Homo sapiens: one gene and its partner. The protein of the gene in region 1 interacts with the protein of each later gene in a biochemical or structural test. Each region holds a gene or a part of one and is shown on either strand. Other genes may lie near its edges. The genes, in order: PRAM1 and RNF32.

Region 1 (3,381 bases):
GATATTTTACTGTCAACTATCATTGCCCTCCTGTGCAATGGAACACCCAATTTCTTCTTCCTAACTGTAACTTTGTACCCATGGGCCAGCCTCTCCTCATCCTCCCTTCTGCCTTAGTTTTTCACCCAAATCTCATTACAGTAGAACCCCAGAACCTACCGGGTGCAGTGGCTCAGGCCTGTAATCCCAGCACTTTGGGAGGCTGAGGCAGGGGCATCACCTGAGGTCAGGAGTTAGAGACCAGCCTGGCCAACATGACGAAACCTCATCTGTACTAAAAATACAAAAATCAGCTGGGTGTGGCAGTGGGTGCTTATAATCCCAGCTACTCAGGATGCTGAGGCAGGAGAATCGCTTGAACCCAGGAGGCAGAGGTTGCAGTGAGCTGAGATCATGCCATTGCACTCCAGCCTGGGCAACAAGAATGAAACTCCGTCTCAAAAACAAAAACAAAAACAAAAGAAACAAAAAAAAAAACGGCTAGGCACGGTGGCTCACGCCTATAATCCCAGCACTTTGGGAGGCCGAGGCGGGTGGATCACCTGAGGTCAGGAGTTTGAGACCAGCCTGGCCAACATGGTGAAACCCGTCTCTACTAAAAATAAAAAAAAAAATTAGCCGGGTGTGGTGGCATGTGCCTGTAATCCCACCTACTTGGGAGGTTGAGGGAGGAGAATCGCTTGAACCCAGGAGGTGGAGGTTGCAGTGAGCTGAGATCGCGCCATTGCACACTCTAGCCTGGGCAACAAGAGCAAAACTCCGTCTCAAAAAATAAAAAAGAACCCTAGACCCAACTTGCTCTAGGAGGCAGAAGTGAAATGGCCTCGAAGCCTACAGATAAATCCTGCCTTTACCATTTACCAGCTGGGTGACCTTGGGCAGTTTGCTTGACCTCTCTGAGCCTTTATTTCCTTGTGGACAAGTTGGGCATGACAGTGGCGTCTACTGGCATGAACAAGGTTGCTGAGAGGGCTGCCATGAGGGGCGTGGCCCAGCAGTTCCCACCATGCTGAGCACGTGGCAGGAGTTAAGGGAATGGAAGGCAATCCAGAAGAACCCATGACCCCTGAGAAAGGCTTGCGGAAGAAGGTGGGCAGGGAGAGGTTTGGGAGGGGACCTGGTGGGATTTGGGGAGTCCTCAGAACTGACACAGGGAGGCCTTACTCAAGATCCAGCCACCTGCCAGGCGCAGTGGCTCACGCCTGTAATCCCAGCACTTTAGGAGGCCGAGGCGAGTGGATTGCCTGAGGTCAGGAGTTCAAGACCAGCCTGGCCCACATGGTGAAACCTGTCTGTGTTAAAAATACAAAAATCAGCCAGGTGTGGTGATGGACACCTGTAATCCCAGCTACTCGGGAGCCTGAGGTAGGAGAATCGCTTGAACCCAGGAGGCGAAGGTTGCAGTGAGCCGAGATTGTGCCATTGCACTCCAGCCTGGGTGACAGAGCAAGACTTCGTCTCAAAACAAAAACACAAAAACAAACAAAAAACAGCTACCAGGGTAAAGGCTGAGCCGGCGGGCCCTGCCTTGACTCGGAGTCCTGACTGTCCCCAGATGAAGCGCCCTCAGTTCAGCAAGCCGCCAGGAGGCCACCACAAGACCCAGCGCTCAGGTGCCATGGGCAGAGGGGGTGGGCAGACGGGGGGCGAGCTCCAGGAACCCCCAGAGGAGCACAACTTGCTCACGAGCACACAATTCCTTGGTGGGGGCTATCAGGAAGGAGAAGGATCCCCAGCCACAGCAGTTGCCACCCATGGACCCAAAGTTGCTGAAGCAGCTGAGGAAGGCAGAGAAGGCCGAGAGGGAGTTCCGGAAGAAGTTCAAGGTGAGGCCTCTGAGCTAAGCAGGAGTCCTGGCAGGGCGGAGACCAGGGTCCCACCGATCCCAGGCTCAGAAAGAAGACAGGGGCCCAAGGGCGGCAGCACAAGCAGAGGCCCTAACATCTCGCGCCCCAGTTTGAAGGGGAGATCGTGGTTCACACGAAGATGATGATCGACCCCAACGCTAAGACACGTCGCGGGGGTGGCAAGCACCTCGGGATCCGGCGCGGGGAGATCCTGGAGGTGATCGAGTTCACCAGCAATGAGGAGATGCTGTGCCGGGACCCCAAAGGCAAATGTGAGTGCGCCCGGCCCCGCAGCCCCGGGAGGTCCCCGCCGCCACCCTGGGCCTCAGAACCCACCATGCCCACTCTCTCCACAGATGGCTACGTGCCCAGAACAGCGCTCCTGCCCCTGTGAGTGCCAGCCCTGACCGTGGTGGGGGAGTGCGGGGTGTGTGGTGCAGGGTGGGGGGAATGGGCCACGGTGCCCCTTGCTGACCCAACTGTGCTCTGCCAGGGAGACGGAGGTGTACGATGATGTCGACTTCTGCGGTACGTGGACACTCTGGGAGGGCTGGAGGGACCCTGGCGATTCCCCGGGGGCGCTGCTCACTATTGGGCTTCTGGGGAGAGGGGTCCATGGAAGTCACGCTTCCTCGGCAGATCCCCTGGAAAACCAACCACTCCCCCTGGGACGGTAAGACCGGTAGGCGTGGGGCCAGGACAGCCAGCCAGCCCAGCGCCCGCTCACCCAGGAGCCCTGGATCCCGGCGCGGGAAAGTCACAGAGCTGCCTGGGCTTGTACCTGGCCACATAAAGCCCCAGTTTAAAGCAGTCCCTGCTTCTTGTCTTTTCTTTCCCTCCTGATTGGCACACAGTGGAGCAAAGGCACGGGAACCCCCTGACCAAACACAAAAGGGGGTGTGTCTGGGGTCACCCTGCCATGGTCTCACCCCTCAGGGATAAAAGCCAGTGGGGAGAAAAGGGTGGCAAGAAGCTGGTGAGCAAGGGGGGCTCCGGGTGATCAGAACAGCATGTGCTACCAGGCAGGCAGCCGGGCAGGACGCGCCCCTCCACAGCCAACAGAACAGCAGCAGCCAGGCCTCCTTGCCAGGTATGCACACCTGCTTGGCCTGAGTGGATCCTGAGAGCGCTTCACTGGGGGAAGGGGTGGGGCCTATACCCAATTCTGACAGAGCCCAGGTATCAATCAGATTTGGCCTGAGCCTCTGGCAGGACTGAACACGCATGGAAGGTGGCACACAGTTTGGTCTGTTTCAGCAGGAAAAAAAAAAAGCCAGAGAACAAGCCTGACTCAGGCAGGGCCTGTGCCCCAGGGCGTTAACTTCACAACAGGGAGACAGGATGGCTTTCGGGGGGCTTTTTTTTTTTTTTTTTTGAGACGGAGTCTTGCTCTGTTGCCCAGGCTGGAGTGCAGTGGCGCGATCTCACTCACTGCAACCTCCGCCTCCTGGGTTCGAGTGATTCTCCTGCCTCAGCCTCCTGAGTAGCTGGGACTACAGCCATGAACCACCGCGCCTGGCCTCAGAAGGCTCTA
Region 2 (7,549 bases), on another chromosome or scaffold:
TCCTATCACCTTCCTTCTATTCTTCTGCTGCAAAGACGTGGTCAACAGAAAGTCAAAGTTACAGTGCACAGAAAAACCATGAAGTTTGTGAGGATGCTCTGTAAGAGTCTAACAGATCCTGAAGCAGCAGGAATGCCTGCTACAGGGTGGCACTAAGCTACACATTCTGGTTCTGGAGGAAGGGGGTGAACTCAAGTCAGTTATGCTTCGACTCATCCCTGTCCTCAAATAGTTCACCCCTGAGCTCCTGAGGACACATTAATACAAATGGTTAATTACTATGAATTAATCCATTGCTAAATATAACATGATACATAAGTACTACAAAACTTCAGGCTAACACTGGAGACTTGGAAAAACCAGTTAAACTGGCATTTGAAAGATACACAGAGGGAAATGAAGATGGCACATTACAGGTAGGAGGAAAGAACTGGCAGGCTGGAAATCAGCATGATATGCTTATTTTGGGGAGAAAGGGAACAATGAAGAAACTGGAACGCAAGAGGAACACTGGCTAACTTCAGTCTGTCCAGAACACAGAAGTACAGAATATGGGGACAGACCAACTTGAGTTCCAATTGAACTCTACCGCTTTGCTGCGCAAGATACTGGACACAGCTGAGCCCCAGGCTCCTCATCTATAAAGCAGGTATAATAACGCTGGCTTTGCAGGGTTGCCGCAAGGATTAATGAGACAACCTTTGAAGTATCTAAAGTAGGTCTTTTCACACAGAACTTACTCTTGTTATTCTTGCTTCAATTCCCTTCAAAGCTGGTGGAATAATTTGGAATTGGCCCTTTTAGATTTTGGACATGGTGTATTTTATGAAGACAGATGTATTCAAAATATACTGTGATGAGGAGAAATAGAAAGTTATTCAAGTAATCTAGGAACTGGCACAGAAGGCCCTTGAACATATTTCTTCTAATGTTGTTTCCCTATAACGCTGATGAGAAAAAAAATTGATCCCCAGCAGGGGCCACTGTCTGTTTGGAGTTTGCACGTCCTCCCCATGTGCTGTGGGTTTCCTCCAGGTACCCCGGGTTCCTCCCACATCCCAAAGCTGTGCACGTGAGGCTCACTGGGGCGTCCCCGTCTGAGTGAGTGTGAGTGTGCCCTGCCATGGGATGCCGTCCTCTCCAGGACTGTTGCCCGCCTTGGTCCTGAGCTGCCTGGATGGGCTCAGCCCCCTGCCACCCTGAACTGGAATAAGCAGGTTGGAAAATGAAAGGATACAAATTATTGTCAAATAAAAACTCGTAAAGCATACGGTATTCACACAGAGATGCAGGACAATACCCGATGCAGTAAGAAAGGCCCAGCGGGCTGAGAAGTGGCTCCTGTTTGTTTTGAAACTGCATGGTAGGGGGAGGTGCTTCAGAGCTTTGGCTTGGCCAACATTATCTTTAACACAGCCCCTCCACAACCCGGTCACTCATGGATTCACCAGAAATTGGGTAATGATATTTCTTAAATGTAGAGCTCATATGTACTTCAGTGTTTCATATTAGAAGTGCTTTGGTCTTTATTTAGAAGTTTGGCGATGTTTTTGTGACCAGGAATGTGCTGTGGGAACTTTCCTCTTATTTATATCAATTAACCTATGGTGAAACTGGTTTCCTTGTACACTGCATGGCTTAAAGCTCCAGTTTCTAAGAACCTATGGATGATGTTAAGTGAAGACTTACTGTGTTGAGGGCCTAACTCTAAAAATAGAAAGAAATTAATCCAAAATGTATTTCTAAGGACTAACACTTGTATTAAATTACTCCAACCGAAAGAACAAACTCACTAAGGCGTGAGTGGAGAGATAGAAAAGCACAGTGGAACCAAATCTCTGAGATATCCAGGGTTAGAAGTAAAAACGTCAGTCGCTGCTCAAGTCCTGGAGGCTTTGATGATGGTTCTTACTACAGCCCTTTTCTGTTCCCGTTCAATTCTGGCATCAAGAGATGTTTGAAATAAGTTCCACCCTGTATCTCATCAAGACAACTGAACTTGGAGAAATGGTGGAATTTAAAATACTGAAAGATCACTGCCAGAATTTTCTCAGTTCCTGCTTCCAAAATGCCTATAACCTGCAGAAGATACAGTTTGCATCACACTAAAAATGGTCCGGTCATAGCTGCAGTCTGCAATTTAATCTCAAGTTTCTACACAGTAGACCACTGTCATTAATATCAAGGTAAGAGCTTTTAAAACCTATACTCTCTTAAAGTCCTACGGTATCATTAAGTTTTAGAGTTTAAAATTCAGAATTTAAAGGTATTGAAAACCCTTCAAGTACCTACTCCAACTCCACTTTATAAATGAGAAAACCAAATACCAGGTGAGTCCTTCAATATATAATGAGCCTGCGGCACTGGTAGGGTTAGAAACGTAACCCTTGCCCAGTATTGAAAGCTAAGATTAACAGGAACCCGTTGCTTTGTAAATCCCAGTATTAAACGCTCAAGAGGCAGAGCTTGGTGGCAAAAACGATCACTGGGGTGCCAAAGCGAGTAACCTCAGCTAATTAAACACGCTCAATAAAAATACACGAGACCAAGCCTACGACGTAAAGATGCAATCCTACGTAGGGTCTTGGTGTTATCTCCTGCCTTCTGAACCCCGCTGACCGTTTTCTGAGGTTCCACTCATGCAGGAAGCGCGCGGTGACGAGGCTCCAATTCCTCTCAAAGCTGACACCACCCTGCACCTGGGGCCCCTGATGGCAGCCGGTCCTACCGGGTTCTAAAATTACCGACGTGGGATCACTGTTCTAAGGCTTTAGGCAGCCGTAAATTCGTACCCCTCAGATAGAAGGAGCTGTGGAAACTAACCAGGACCCCGAGTCCCCCAAGGAGGCTGCGCGCCGCTACGGGACCCGACCTCGCCTCACAGCTGCGGCCATCGCCGGCCCGGCTCGGAGGAGGCGAAAGCGAGGCCGCGGACGGCCCTCACCCCGAATCCATGGACCCCGCCCGCCTGGCGGGCCACCCTTCTTTCCGTCCCTCCCCCGAAGCCTCTCCGTGCCTCGACTCCTCCGCGAACACCGGAACCCAGGGACGTCTGCCCCTTTTCCCTCAGGCAACTCCCTGGCCGCCCACCGTTGCCGTAGCAACGCCCGCCTCCGCGCTCGCTCCCCGCGGGCTTGCTCACCAGCCCTGCCCCGCCCCGCCCCATACTGCGCATGCTCGCCAGCCCCGCCCGGCCCACATTGCGCATGCTTGCCAACCACGCCCTGTCCACACCACACTGCGCATGCTCGCCGGCCCCCGCCCCGCGCACGGCGTCAGCGTCTAGACGCAGGTGCGTTCCCGTCGAGGCTCGCGCAGCGGGCGTTTTTGGGGATCGCCTGGCGGGGGTGTTCGGGAGCCGCGGGCTGAAGCACGGGGGCGTGCAGGCGCCCAGGCCTCGTGTAGTGAGGGCCGAGCCCCGCGCCGGCTTCGCTGTAGTCCGCAGCCCCCGGCGGCTTTGTGGGCGCAGCCACGCTCCTCAGCCGCCCGCCCACCTGGGCCTGGGCCCCGGTTGTTTCCCTGCGGTGGCTGTGGTCGTTCCCGTTCCAGGGTCTCGAGCGCACCGCCCCTTCGCTGCGCTGTTAGTCGAGGGCAGTTTTCTGGGGGATCCCCCGATCCCCCCGCGCCGCTCAGGCGTCTTGGCTCGCGGAAGCGCAGGCGCCGACTGCCTGGCGTCGTCCGTGACTCCTGGCCCTTCTCTGTGGATCCCTTTGCTTCTCGTTGCGGGTTGTGTTTCCTGCTTCGTGGGCCTGGCCGTTTGCGTTTGGATGCAGGCCCGGGTGAGCCCTGCGTGGCCCGCTGGCCTTTTCCTGCTCCCTAGGTGACTGAGCCGCGTGTGTGACACATCGGAGTGAATTGAGGCAACGCGTTCCTTTCCAGGCTTGCAGCGGGCGGTGTCGTTCACGCTCCTGAGCAGAGCCTTCCGGTGCTTTACTCGACGCCACAAATAGTGCAGGGTTCCTCCCAGGGGCTGTCGCGAGCTAGAACTCTTCCCCGCCCCTGTGAGCTCGGGCTGTTCTTCCTCCTCCGCGTGGCTCACTCCAGCCTCGGATGTTTCCTCGCTGCACAGACCTGCTCGGGAAGACTCGAGAAGGCCACCCCAGGACTCCAGCTCTCCCCGGAAGGGCTTCCCCTCGGATTGCGTCTTGGCCCCTGGAACCCTCCCTCTGTATCCTCTGCTGTTCCTCTCTTGGCCTCCATTTGGGTTGTGGCCTGGATACTCTGGCTCGCTGCTTCCCTTCTCTTAAGGATCACAGCCCTGCACTGCCTGTCGTCCGGTGCCTGGAAACCATTGTATTTTTTGGTCTGATTTTGTAGTTGTTTGAGAACTTAAGTCTGGTCCCTCACACTCCATGCCCAGAAGCAGAAATGAGTAAAGTTTGTTTTATCTTTTCTTAATATGACAATTATTGTGTTGGTTCAACTTATGTTGTACTTTAATTAGAAGAAATTTGGCCGAAAATACAAGGAAAATATACAAATGCAAGTAATTTTTTTTAAACTTCCCTGAAAGCAGGGTCTAAAGAAATTACCAACCAACTTAGACTGGATCTAGAAGAAAAGGAAGGGTCTTTGCAGTCTTAGGACTCTTCCGTTCCGCGACGTAGGTGTTAGGATAACAGCCATAAATGGTTGTAAGACTTTGGGCTCAGATAAGTAGACTTAAGTTCAAATTTTGACTTATTTTACAAGTGTGTGATTTTTGGCAAGCTCATCTTCCTAAACCATGAGCTCCTTATTTGTAAAGGGGACATTAGCCACTCTCCAGCAACAGCCCTGGTACTTCTTCAGTCCTGGGATGGGACGTATGATTAGCCTAAGCGAACCAGAAAATCCAGGCCCGTGACCAGTGACTTGATCAGGGCTGGCGATATATCTAGGTAGGCCAACCAGGTGGACTCAGTATTTTTGTGGGTGCTACTGGAAAATTTATTTAATTCTAACTGAATGTAGAAACAGCAACAGACATGAAATGGCAGTTGTATTGCTGTCTTATCATGAGGTGAGGGCCTGAAGCTATGGTAGCCACCCTGTGAACCTTGGAAGGAGGGTTCTACAGGAACTGGCAGAGCTGAGACTGGGACGCAACCCATGTCCTGGTGACGTATTTGAGTCCTGAGGCTGGCCCTCCTGTTAGTCTTTTCTCTTACTGGCTTCAGCCAGATGGGGTCTGGTTTTCTGTTACTTGCAACAGGAAAAATTGGAATGATATCTATGCATGCTATTACCGCCTTATGGCTGTGGTGAGATTAAAACATGATACTGTGGGTGAACTGCTTAGTACAGTGCCTGCTATTCTTTATGTTGGTTTTAAGGTATTTTTCTTGAACTTTAAAGTTCTAAGAAAAATTACCGTTTTAAAATTCCTACCCTCTGTTCACATGTTTAAATTTTCATGATAGTTTTTCTGTCTGCATGTTTTCTATTCAAAATAAATTGGTCATTCTTCAGTTAGCCACGAAGAATATTGTGAATTTTTTATTTTTAAATTTATTTTTTATTGATACATATTAGATGAACATGTTTTTGGATAACGTGATAATTCGATAAATTCATAAAATCAAATCAGGGTAATTGGGATATCCATCCCCTTAAATATTTATCTTCTATTTACACTAGGAACATTCAAATTATTCTAGCTATTTTGAAATGTGCAATCGATTTGTGTTAAGTATAGGCTTGACTGAAAATTTAACCTTATTGCTTTCTAATTCTTGACAAAAACAAAGCTAACATAGTTGATATTTGAAGAATACATTCATTCTTCAAGATAGTGTGTTCTGTTGAAATGAGTTAGATGATCAGAATGCAACATTCTTGGATAGGGATAATTAAAAATATAGTCAACCTATCTTGTCCCCAAAACCATGTTATCAATGATTTGTATTTTAACATTATGCCTTTTGTTTTAAAAAAGTTTTTTTGTTTTTTTGAGATGGGCCTGAGAAACTGCATGTATACAAAGCATGTTTACATCTTCAGAAAACTGCTATTGAGTACATTCTCCATGGTGCTGTTCAGTGCCATTTGTGTAAGCACCCACATGATTGTTTTAGAATTTCAAAACCACTAATTGAATGTCCTAGGAATAGTGGAGACGGAAGAGAAAATTAGAGGTGCATGATGTTAAGGATGTTGAGGTGCTTAGTCACAAGGAGAAGGGCACCAGTGTACTTGGCTGATTAAGATGCACTTCTGTACTCCACTGTGCTTAAGAAGAAAGCTGCGGGTGGTACTCTAAGAGATCTGTTGTATAAACATTATCACAAAAAGAGTGATGATACCTGTGCTTATCCAAGGAAGAGCAGCCCAAGATGGATGGCAATAGCGGACTATTTAAGTGGAAGACATTGATATGAAGGGAAAATCTTATATTTTGCTTGTGTAGAGCGCAATTCACAGAAAGTGTTCAAATACTAGAATAGGCAGTTGGAGTCCAGCTTGTGGAAGATGGGGTTTTCTTCATGATGACACTAGAGATCATGATATTGGATACTAGTGCTGGCCCTGTATTTTTATTTATTTATTTATTTATTTATTTATTTATTTATTTATTTATTTATTTTGAGACAGAGTCTCTGTTGCCCAGGCTGGAATGCAGTGGCGCCATCTCGGCTCACTGCAACTTCTGCCTCCCAGGATCAAGTAATTCTCCTGTCTTAGCCTCCCGAATAGCTGGGATTACAGGTGCCCGTCACCACGCTTAGCTAATTTTTGTATTTTTTAGTAGAGTCGGGGTTTCGCTATGTTGGCCAGGCTGGTCTTGAACTTCTGACCTCAGGTGATCCGCCTGCCTCGGCCTCCCAAAGTGCTGGGATTACAGGCGTGAACCACCGTGCCTGGCCTATGGATTCTTAATGTATCATACCCATAATATTTGAATTTGCCCACCTGCCTAGTCTCTAAACACTGCACTAATGAAAGCCTAGGCAGGGTCAGAATGGTTCTTAGTTCAATATCCTTCTCACATTTTAGTATCTTAATGCTCTCACATTTCTCCTTTGTTATGTACAAAATATTCTCAAAGCCTACTCAGTGCCTATTTGACTCTTGTCTCTCTTAACACAGTCCTTGACATCTAAAACAAACCTAAGGAGCAGAAATTGGTGGCATGGGGTTCATCTTTAATTTAGTTCTCAATTTTAACCTTCACCAAAACCATCTCTCCATTTATTTTTCTTAATCTTCTGTATTACCTTTAACTTTCTACTCACACTTGTATATTTATTTATTTATTTATTTTTTCTTTCTTTATTATTATTCTTTAAGTTTTAGGGTACATGTGCACAATGTGCAGGTTAGTTACATATGTATACATGTGCCATGCTGGTGCGCTGCACCCACTAACACGTCATCTGGCATGAGGTATATCTCCCAATGCTATCCCTCCTCCCACACTTGTATATTTATTATCAATTTCTATTCCTAACTTGCTGATGTGGTTTGGCTGTGTCCCCACACAAATCTCACCTTGAATTGTAGTAAGTAATCCCCATGTGTCAAGGGCAGGGCCAGGTGGAGAGAATTCAATCATAGGGACAGTTTCCCC

The links.
Region 2: the proteins of PRAM1 (region 1) and RNF32 form a complex in vitro, tested with the Homo sapiens proteins (one study listed by BioGRID and IntAct).

What each region holds. Positions count from the first base shown.
Region 1 is NC_000019.10:8,489,332-8,492,712, reverse strand, and holds the end of PRAM1 (PML-RARA-regulated adapter molecule 1), read left to right. Parts: intron 1-1,555; coding exon 1,556-1,613; intron 1,614-1,717; coding exon 1,718-1,826; intron 1,827-1,956; coding exon 1,957-2,119; intron 2,120-2,203; coding exon 2,204-2,237; intron 2,238-2,340; coding exon 2,341-2,375; coding exon of another isoform or gene 2,376-2,486; coding exon 2,487-2,524; 3' UTR 2,525-2,657; downstream 2,658-3,381. UniProt on the Homo sapiens protein: May be involved in myeloid differentiation. May be involved in integrin signaling in neutrophils. Binds to PtdIns(4)P.
Region 2 is NC_000007.14:156,636,279-156,643,827, reverse strand, and holds the start of RNF32 (RING finger protein 32), read right to left. Parts: upstream 3,055-7,549; 5' UTR 3,017-3,054; exon of another isoform or gene 1,794-3,016; intron 852-1,793; exon of another isoform or gene 741-851; intron 28-740; 5' UTR 1-27. UniProt on the Homo sapiens protein: May play a role in sperm formation.